Regions from separate parts of the Homo sapiens genome. Here region 2 is reported to be linked to region 1. The links are microRNA targets in miRTarBase. Many come from high-throughput screens and were not tested one by one. Region 1 holds a microRNA gene; the other region holds the end of a gene's coding sequence.

The links. Region 1 holds the annotated microRNA hsa-miR-4292 (CCCCUGGGCCGGCCUUGG, at 3,273-3,290, opposite strand). A microRNA usually pairs through its seed, bases 2 to 8, with sites in the 3' UTR of a target mRNA and lowers its output. Matches are read on the target gene's strand: a 7mer-m8 pairs with bases 2 to 8, a 7mer-A1 pairs with bases 2 to 7 and ends in A, and an 8mer does both.
Region 2: the mRNA of KLHL36 is a reported target of hsa-miR-4292. Seed matches in the 3' UTR shown: 7mer-m8 at 935-941 and 7mer-A1 at 3,644-3,650.

Annotation. Positions count from the first base shown.
Region 1 is chr9:136,829,110-136,834,285 of GRCh38, reverse strand. It overlaps MIR4292 (microRNA 4292), which reads right to left and starts at 3,329; the gene lies at 3,263-3,329. It overlaps RABL6 (RAB, member RAS oncogene family like 6), which reads right to left. Exons shown (of 15, transcript NM_024718.5): 5 at 4,802-4,893; 6 at 2,425-2,565; 7 at 1,916-2,021.
Region 2 is chr16:84,661,239-84,666,238 of GRCh38, forward strand. KLHL36 (kelch like family member 36) reads left to right here. Exons shown (of 5, transcript NM_024731.4): 5 at 340-5,000. The coding sequence ends at 895. Among named protein-coding and RNA genes, the nearest start is that of KLHL36, 15 kb to the left of the region's middle. RefSeq lists an enhancer at 2,367-2,586 and a silencer at 2,677-2,726.

The sequences.
Region 1 (5,176 bases):
AAAACCTTCTGTGAGTTTAACATGCGGTATTACATTAGGTACTACGGTCAGGTTAAAAAAACAACTGATTTTTTTAGAGATGTGTTTGAAATATTTTTAGGTGACATAAAGAAGGCCTGAAATTTGCTTCCAGGCAATCCAGGGGCAAGACAAAGAGGAAACAGGGGTCCCGCTGCTGAGACAGGCGAGGACATCAGATCTGCTTGAACACATCCATAGCAAAAGGATAGTCACACACAGCTCAGCCCTACGCTTCCAGCTCAAGACTCTGTCCAGGGTCCCGTTCTCTCCCTGGGAGGCTTTGGAAGGGTTTGGAGGGCAAACCATTAGGGAATGGAGCAGCTGAGCAGTGGGGAGCTCTCTAAGGAGTAATCAACCCAGTGATGAGGGGACGGCTCTGCAGGAAGGAGGGGCCTCCCCAGCAGTGCCGGCACAGGACAAGTCTGACTGCCGCCTTCCTTCCAACCCAAACGTCCCCAGCAGCAGTCCCAGCCTGCAGGCATCCTCACTTCTTCTGACACCAGGACGACAGCACAGCCCCTTTCCTGGGCAAGCCTGACATCCTTCTGGAGAAAGACCAAGGCTGCTGCAGCTGCAGCTGGGCCCCAGGTCCCCCAGACCCAGTCGGGGCAGCCCAGGGCGAGGAGGTTCAGGTCCCCCAGACCCAGCTGGGGCAGCCCAGGGCGAGGAGGTTCAGGTCCCCAGACCCAGCTGGGGCAGCCCAGGGTGAGGAGATTCAGGTCCCCCAGACCCAGTCGGGGCAGCCCAGGGCGAGGAGGTTCAGGTCCCCCAGACCCAGGCGGGGCAGCCCAGGGCGAGGAGGTACAGGTCCCCCAGACCCAGCTGGGGCAGCCCAGGGCGAGGAGGTTCAGGTCCCCCAGACCCAGGCGGGGCAGCCCAGGCAAGGAGGTTCAGGTCCCCCAGACCCAGGCGGGGCAGCCCAGGGCGAGGAGGTTCAGGTCCCCCAGATCCAGCTGGGGCAGCCCAGGGCGAGGAGGTTCAGGTCCCCCAGACCCAGCTGGGGCAGCCCAGGGCGAGGAGGTTCAGGTCCCCCAGACCCAGCTGGGGCAGCCCAGGGCGAGGAGGTTCAGGTCCCCAGACCCAGGTGGGGCAGCCCAGGGCGAGGAGGTTCAGGTCCCCAGACCCAGGCGGGGCAGCCCAGGGCGAGGAGGTTCAGGTCCCCAGACCCAGGCGGGGCAGCCCAGGGCGAGGAGGTTCAGGTCCCCAGACCCAGCTGGGGCAGCCCAGGGCGAGGAGGTTCAGGTCCCCCAGACCCAGTCAGGGCAGCCCAGGGCGAGGAGGTTCAGGTCCCCCAGACCCAATCAGGGCAGCCCAGGGCGAGGAGGTTCAAGCCTCATCATTTGCTGGGCTACTTTGCAGCCACAGCTGGCCTGGCCCTTGTTTCTACAAAGGAAAGTGAGTTTAGTCCGTAGGCCAAAGTTGGTTCCTTGGTTTTGACACAAGCACCAGGGAAATGTGAGATGTGAACAGCGAGTACCTCGGTGACTCACGCCTGGCATCCCAGCACTTTGGGAGACAGGTGGGAGGATTGCCTGAGCCCCGGAGTTTGAGGCCGCAGTGAGCCATGATTGCGCCACTGCACTCCAGCCTGGGCCACACAGCAAGACCTTATCTCAACAAACAAAAACAACCAAAAACACTGGGGGAAACTGAGCAAGGGGTCCCCGCAGAGGTGGAGGGGCTCCTGGGACTGGGTCTAGCCCTCAGGACCCTGTACCCTCTGCCACCCAGAGCAGGCAGGTGCAGTAGAACGCTGGGCCCTTGCCAGCAGCCAATCTCCGAGCAGGTCCACAGCTTTCTCAGGGGTTAGGAGGGAGACCCGTTGCTACACAGGAGACACCTGGAAGGAGGTGAGAGACCAGCAGCCACTCCACCCCACGTGGTGAGTGCTTACCTGAAGCTGCAAAAATGGGATATTGAAGAACTTATGAAGGTACTTTAGGCCGAAGCTGTTCTTCATGGAAGACTCAGCATAGCGGAAGTAGGAGGAACCTGGAGGTCTGCTTTCAGAAAGGAAAAAAGATGCAAGAGAAAGACCCTTGCCCTGGTGCCAAGGATCACCCCTGGGCCCACAGCTGTGGGTCCGCACTGCCCTCCCTCCTCCTGCAGGCTCCTGAGGCCACAGGACCCTGCTGAGCCCTGCTAAGCAGCTAAGCCGAGTGCCCTTCTGCAGGTGACCCCACAGTGCCAGCACTTCACCCTGGCACACAGTTCCCCAGCACACAGTTCCCGGCCCTGCCATCGGGGAGACCCAGGCTTCAGTGAGCCCCACTCAGCGGCGAGACCCACATCCGCCGGGCCCCATGCTAACGTTAACCCCTCCCTGGGCCTCTGCCTCAGCACCCTCCCCCGCACACCGGAGCACCGGGCAGGGTCCCTCGGGAGCAGGGCCACCGCACCCACCTGTCCAGGTTGTCGATGAAGTCACGCACGTCGTCCGGCAGGATGACTCGGTGCTCGCCCATGTCCCGGTAGTTTCCCAGCACGCACACTGGCACGTGGGTGGGCACTTTTGGAAGCTCCCGGAGAATGTAATTGAAGGTCCTCGGAGAACAGGTGAGGACCTGGCTTAGTTTCAGCCCTGCGACGCCCTGTCCCTCCCTGGAAAGGTGCTGTGCGCCCAGGCCCGAGGATGGTGGCTGCTTCTCATTTCCAACATCCAACCCAGCAGAAGCATGCCTCGTGCATGCAGAGCTAGAGGGAAGTGCCTCGAGGGCCTTCGCACCCCTCAGCCTGCAGCCCCCGCCCGTCCCTCTCCCTGACGGCAGGTACTTGACCGCACCCCACACTGGAACGCCCCTGCCTGTCCCTGCCTTCCCTCAGAGCACCCCATGTCCGCATCCCTACAAAACCACCTCTGGCTTCATCTGTGTCCACCCTCATTCCGCACTGTCCTCTGTGCCCCTTGGTGTCGACCCTGTGGCTGGTCCTCCAGGCTCCCTGCCCACCGGGGCAGCCGAGGACACCCTGGGGTGCCTCTGCGGCTGCCGGTGAAGCGGGCTGTTTGGAGAGCCTTGTCTTAAGCAGACATCTCCTGGCACGGACGGCAAGTCTCCAGAGTCTGCCTGGCGTGGAACTGCCAGTTTCCCAGCTGCGTGGTTTTCCAAATGGCTTGTGAAGAAATAACCAGCGCTTCAAGTGACAAAACTTCCCCACGACTGAAAGCCAACATAAGGGAGTAAAAAATGCAACATCCTGTTTCTAACTTCATTTTCTTTCATTTACACGCAGTCATTTAAACGGGCCCCTCACCAAGGCCGGCCCAGGGGCACCTCTGGCCTCCTAAGCAGGTGGCCTTCTGGTGTCTCCTGCCTCTCGTGGCTGTGAAGGGCCTGCGTGGTGCTTGAAGCCGCTGTCTGAGCCAGTGTTTTCCATCCTTCCTGCTGGGCACCAGGGGCTCCAGACAGAGCATTGCTACCATAGGCATCGCCTGCCCAGGCTGGTGCTGCCAACAGGGTCTCCGGGCCCACAGGTAAGCGCCTTTGCCGCGTCTTCTCAGGCTGGCTCAAGTCTCGCTGTCACTCCCGCCCACTCCTCGCACGGCAGCCCAGGCGGCTGCAGCTCCCTCCAGGCCGTTCCTGTGGCAGCAGTGGGAGGTGCCGTGGAGGCCACACTGTGTCCACACTCAACTTCGCTTGGGAAAAGCCACTTCCCACCCACCAGGCTGGCCTGCTGCCTAGACAGGAGAGGCCGGAGGGAGAGGAGCACCACTGCTCGCCCAGGTGAGGCCAGCGTGTGCGCCCGAGCTGAACTCGTGCCCTGGGGTGGGGCCGCCAGCCCCGTGTGTGGTTCTCCTGCCATCCGTGTGCCACACCCCCACCGAGGGCTCTCCTGAGGGTGCCTGCGGTCAGTCCTTGGTGGTGGTGCTGAAGGCTGGGAGGGCAGGCATGGTTCCCAGCATTGGCAAAGGTTGGCAGAGGCCCAGAGCATGGCTGGTCAGGTGCTTCAAGCCGCCCTCAGGCCTGGGCTGCTGATGCGTGCTGAGTGTGCGGCCCCGTGACAGGCGGTACGCTTAACCCTGGTGTGGGGGTCTTCCCAAGTAAGAGAAGCTGCTGACTAGGCCCCCAGGCCAGACCCACTGCTGGGAAGAGCAGATGCCTGGACGTGTCGGGCATGCTGCTCCTGGTGCTCCGGGCACTGGCTGTGGCTAGGAGGGGCCCTGCACCAGGACACTGGTCTTCACGCGGCCCTCGTTCTTCTAGGAGCCTTGTGCCAAGTGTGCGTCCGCAGCACCCCCCCGCTGGGGCTCCGGTGCGTCCTGGGGGACACTGCACTCCTGAGGAGCTGAGTGGATCCCATGCGACTCCACAGTGGACTCTGGGGGCTTGCGCCTGGTCCCCCAGAGATCGTCCTGTGTGCCACTGCCCTTAGCTGATTTCGCTGTCATCTTCTTGCTAGAATGAATCTTGGCTGTGGGTCCTCCTAGGTCATGAAGACGGAGGTCGCGGGGAGCCCCCAGCACAAGCAGCCACTTGCTTCCGCCAAGTCTCAGATGGGTTTTCAGGAAGAACAGTGGGGCTATGGAAGGTGCGTGCCTTGCCCCAGATGCCTTTTGCAGCCGGCCCACGCCATCCCGCCCCATAGGCACAGGCATAGTCGTTGCCCAGCCCGACATCCAGGCCAGTGCCCCTTGTGGCTGAGCTGCCACAGCTGCCCAGCAAGAGTCCCTCGGTCCTGCAGAACGATGCTGCTCTAACCATTATCTGCTGCACAAAGAGGGCGCCCAAGGGGCTAGGGGGGTGAGAGTCACAGGCAGCTGCCCCCGCCAGCTCCCTCTTACCACTGCTTGGTAATGTCGAACATCATGACCACCCCGTTGCAGTTCTTGTACACGTCCAGGAACTCAGCATCCAGGGCCATTTCAGACTCCGCCTGGGGACAGGAGGGAACAGGTGTGAGACTGGCCCAGGCTGGGCCCCACCCGTGTGGCCCACAGTTTTAGAAAAGGCTGGATAGTCTTCTAATCTGAAAAGATAACAGCCATTTCCATTTGGAAACGATATGCTGAAGAGATGGGATAGCTAAACATAGGTTTGCCCCAAAGGGTCTGACGGTCAACACCAGCCTCGCTGATGGCTCCCTGAACAAGCCTCCTACCCAGGACCTCCCACTGATCACAGCAGTGTCCGCCCCAGGCCTCACGGATAACCAAACC
Region 2 (5,000 bases), not on the chromosome of region 1:
GCCTGCTAGCTCATTGTTCTAGTCGTTTCCAGCCATTGTGAAAAGGGTGATGGTCCTGTGATTATTCCCATTTCCCAGATGGGGCAAGGGAGACTCAGAGAGAGTGAAGCTGGGTTCTGGCCCAGGCGGCCTGACTGCAAAGCTGTCCACTTCCCCGCCCTGCCCTGCCATTTCTTTGCTAATGACGGCTACTGTCTATAGAGTGTTCATGGGGTGCCCACTCCCTATATTCTTAAATCCTCATGGCCCTCTAAGACGGCAGGCTGTTCCCCGGCTCGGAGGGGGTAAGCCTGGCACAGCCCTGAGCTCTCCCTCTGTCTCTGCCCGTCGACCCTGCAGGTTCACGTACGGCCACGCGGGCACCATCTACAAAGACTTCGTGTACATCTCGGGGGGCCACGACTACCAAATTGGCCCCTACCGCAAGAACCTGCTATGCTACGACCACCGGACAGACGTGTGGGAGGAGCGGCGGCCCATGACCACGGCGCGCGGCTGGCACAGCATGTGCAGCCTGGGTGACAGCATCTACTCCATCGGGGGCAGCGATGACAACATCGAGTCCATGGAGCGCTTCGACGTGCTGGGCGTGGAGGCCTACAGCCCGCAGTGCAACCAGTGGACCCGCGTGGCGCCGCTGCTGCACGCCAACAGCGAGTCGGGCGTGGCAGTGTGGGAGGGCCGCATCTACATCCTGGGCGGCTACAGCTGGGAGAACACTGCCTTCTCCAAGACCGTGCAGGTGTACGACCGCGAGGCCGACAAGTGGAGCAGGGGCGTCGACCTGCCCAAGGCCATCGCTGGCGGGTCCGCCTGTGTCTGCGCCCTGGAGCCACGGCCAGAGGACAAGAAGAAGAAAGGCAAAGGCAAGAGGCACCAGGACCGGGGCCAGTGACCCTAGCTGCGCCTCTTGGGACCATCCTCACCGTCACCTCCCAGGGCTCTGTAGACCAGCAGCAACTTCTTAGTATTCCGGAAACATTATGTACAACTTAGCAGCTTTTTTTACTTTTATGATTCTTGGTATTTCTATGATATCACAGTAACCAATTAAATACTATCTGTAACTTTACATATCTTGCTTGAATAACTAACCCTGGGCCCAGGCAGTGAGCAACCCCTTGTATCTTCACAGGTCTTTGCCCCGTGTTATGATTCCTCATGGGTCCTTGCTGACTGTCCCCCTGAGAGTAGCTGGCACGTGGGTAACACAGAAATTTCTGTAGTGAAGCTTGGGCCTCAAAGGGTTCTCTTAGGCCACCTAGTCCAAGCCTCCCCAAACCTGGCTGAACTTTTAAGAATACAGATGCGTGAGCCCCGCTCAGAATTATGGAATCCAAAACCACCAGGAACGGGGAGGAGGTGGTGCCCAGAAGCTGTATTTTAACTAGTTCTTGGAATTCTGGGTATTAGTCACATCTGGGAATCACTGGCAAGGTCCAGTGTGTTTGTTTTATAAATGAGTGCACAGAGACCACCCATGAGGGTGAGTGAGTGAGTGACCAGGGGCCACGCAGCTCGCTAGACTGTCAGATGAGACATGATGACTTCCCGCTGGGGAGCTGTTCTCCGTATCAGGTGAACGCTGTTTCTGAATAATTCCGTCTTTCCTCATTGGAAACCTTCTTGAATTCTAAAACGTTACAGGTAACCAAAAACGAAAAAAGGTATGAAGCTCTTTATACATATTTTTTTGTAATTTGTGCATTTTTTTCCTTTTTTTTTTTTCTGAACCCACTGTCTTTTATATTACTGATGTACTGAGCTCCCAAATCTGTTTATTTCTCAGGAAAGAAAAAGTGAGTGCTATGGAATTTGCCATCGTTCTCTGTGACTCTATCTTGAGGCGCTGTTGAAAGTTCCTGCACAGAGGAGCACATGTGGATCCCTGAGAAGGCAGTGGAGGGCTCCCTAACTCCCACGCCAGGTCCTGCCCCAGTTTTCTGCTTCTAAGTAGTTTCGTGCTGCTGGGCAAATTCTCGAACAAGTCCGTGTGTTCCCTCATCCACCCCGCTTAGCCACAGGATTAGATGGAATACCCTCCAGGCTCCTCCCGGGTGATAGGGCCATTCAGCCTCTGAGCTGTTCGTACCCGGATGGCATCCCCTTCAGGATGTGGAGCTGGCCTGCACTGACTCCTGCAAACAGTTCCTAAAGCAGGTGTCAGGGTCGCTTGCCCTTTAAGAGGGCTCTTAGCTGCCCGAGTGGATGAGAAACGTGCAGAACTATGGGAGGATAGGAGTGTGATGGGTTTTAAGCATGAGCCAAGGAAGGCATGAATGAGCTGTACCTCACCCAGCATCCGATGGCAGAGATCAGTAAACTTCAAGATGTGCTTCATCTTCAATCCTAGTCTAACACCAGTCTTCCTGCAGACAGTTCCGAGAGCAGGTCTCGATGTCACTTGCCCTTTAAGAGGGCTCTCAGCTGCTCGAGTGGATGAGGATCAATGTGTTAAGATTGATATTAGACTAGGAAAAAAATCTTAGTTAACTTTAATTTCCATTTCTTCTGCTTCTTTGCTGCCCCTCCTTTCCCTTCCCTTCAGGGTTTACTGTGGTTCTCACTGGTCTGTTTATGTAGCCATCCAGAAGAGATGAGAGCATTTTGGGGACTGAAAGCTTCAATAGCCAACTTACTGCCCTCTGTGGTTAGTGAGGAGGGCAGTCTGCATGTTCAGCTAGCTAGTTATTTGCATGTGAAGTCCCTGGAGGCTTACAAACTGTTGAGAGGTTCTGCGAGGCATACAAACAAACAGACCAAAAGGCTGGAAACTCTGCTTGGAGCTCTGCAGCATTCCGGTGTATGAAAGGTTCCGAGAAGTCTCAACCCAGCATTTCCAAACTTCTTTGAGCCTAAAAGTCGTTTGTCTCATACCTAGTCCCAGACCCCCACAAAACATGTTTTGCAGAACTTCTGCCAACTTTGGGATAGCTTACCCCCTTCCTATTCGGGAAAGGTTTTATTGCTTGTAGACCCCTCAGAAGGCAGGGTAGGGTGTACGTGGGCTGTTCTCCCCATCTCAGCCTGGGTCATGAACAAACGGGCAGTTGTTTGGCCTGAATCTCGGGGCAAGTTGGGGAGAGCACATAGAAAGACTCTGTGAGTGATTTGGGGAGTGGGATAGCTTTGACCTTGGAGAGAGGAGAGCCATTGGTTTTCAGCCTAAGCCAGCTCTTTTATGTTTTGCTTCTGGGACTTGTCCCTGGAAATGTGTGAGCTTCTGGCCTCTATTCTGATTTTCTTGTGCCTCATGAGTTACATACGACGTCCTGCGCTTCATATTTTGTGGTGTCTCTCCTGATACTATGAAGGTGGTTTGTAATTGACATGGCTTTGACCCTAATATTACTAAGGTTGGGACCACCCTTTTAAAGGGAGGATAAACAAGTTTCATCTTGTGGGTCAACTTCTAATATTTGATGGTGGCTACACTGTGACAAGAAAGGTTTTTGAGCTTGTTGGGGTCAGTGGATGGGCACAAGGGCACCCAGTGGTGGTGCCCGGGCCAGGTTTTTGTTACTTGTCTTTTTAAGTTGAAAATTCACCCTACTGTGCATGAAAATGGAACTGAAAATGGAAGAGACCATGCCTGGGCAACATGGCAAAACCCCATCTCTACAAAAAAATTACAAAAGATTAGCCAGGGATGGTGGGGCATGCAGTAGTCCCAGCTGCTTAGGAGGCTGAGGTGGGAGAATCACCTGAGCCTGGGAGGTTGAGGCTGCAGTGAGCTATGACCACACCACTGCACTCTAACCTGGGTGACGGAGTGAGACCCTGTCTCAAAAGAATAAAATGTTTTTTAACTCAGATGGGCAGAGTTTGGGCTGTGCTTATGCAGTGGCCATTTGAACCGCACAGTCACGAATGTGGGGTTTTAAACTAGAGTGATGAAGGCACAGGTGCTTGCAGGCTGCCATTTTGAGAGGGAAACAGCCACACATGTCATCATGTTAAACTTTCAGTGTTTCAAGCTATTCTGCTTGAATTTTGAAGACACCTGGATCTTTTTTTTTTTTTAACATTTCAAAATAAGCATGGCAGGCTTCTATTGAGGTTTGGACTTCTCTCATTTCTAAAGAATTAGAGTTGTAACTTCATATTAGTTGTAAGTTTGGGGTTTGGTCCTCACCCAAGTTGGAAAGCTGTTTGCTTAAGACATAGATGTATTATAATAATAGAAGGGAGGGAGTAGAAAGCTGATGAACCCTTGTTACTTATAGCAAACTTCCTGCTGTTTTAAATGCACAGAGATTATTTTATCAACTGTGGTTAGCACGCAATTGGTATTTTTATTGTTCTGCCATTTTATTGAGGCTATCAAGTGGGACTTCAGACCTGGCTCTGAGCAGGACCACACGTGTGTATTTATATTGAGTGCCCTCACTCATGATAAGGTGACTTCATGGAGACCCAGAAACTCACCCTAAGGGGTGTTCACCTTTGAGGTGGGCATCCAGATGCTGAGGGGAAGTGGGGTCCATCCTCTGAGGTCCAGGGGCCTACTTTGTGAGCTCAGTTGTGTTCACCTGTGGTTCAGTGTACCTCGGCCCCTAAGCCAAGTGATCGTTCAGTGACTTGCAGCAATGTGGGAAGTGAGGGGACCCCTGCCACACCCCCCACCACCCCCTGTAGAGTCACTGACCTTCATCCTTCACCCTGGTCCTCCATGGTGCAGCAGCATCTCATGGGCCTTGTGGCTGTCAGAGCCCGTGGTTGGAACCCCGTCCACTGGTCCCAAACCTGGAGGGGCAGCTGCAGATGAGGTTTAGACCTCCTGGTGTCTCCGTGGATTCTGAGTGCCCAGGAGGGGAGGGGAGGGGGTGGCATCCTGGCCTCTAGGATAAATGCCTGGAGTATAGGGCAGCGCCACGGGCACTTGGAGACCCTGTCCTGCGCATCTGCCAAGCCTGGCAGTTTTTAGAGTTTTTTGAAATGTTTTGATACTTTTTGATACAATTTGCTAATAACTGTTTTGTAGAATGCCTGCCGGGGTT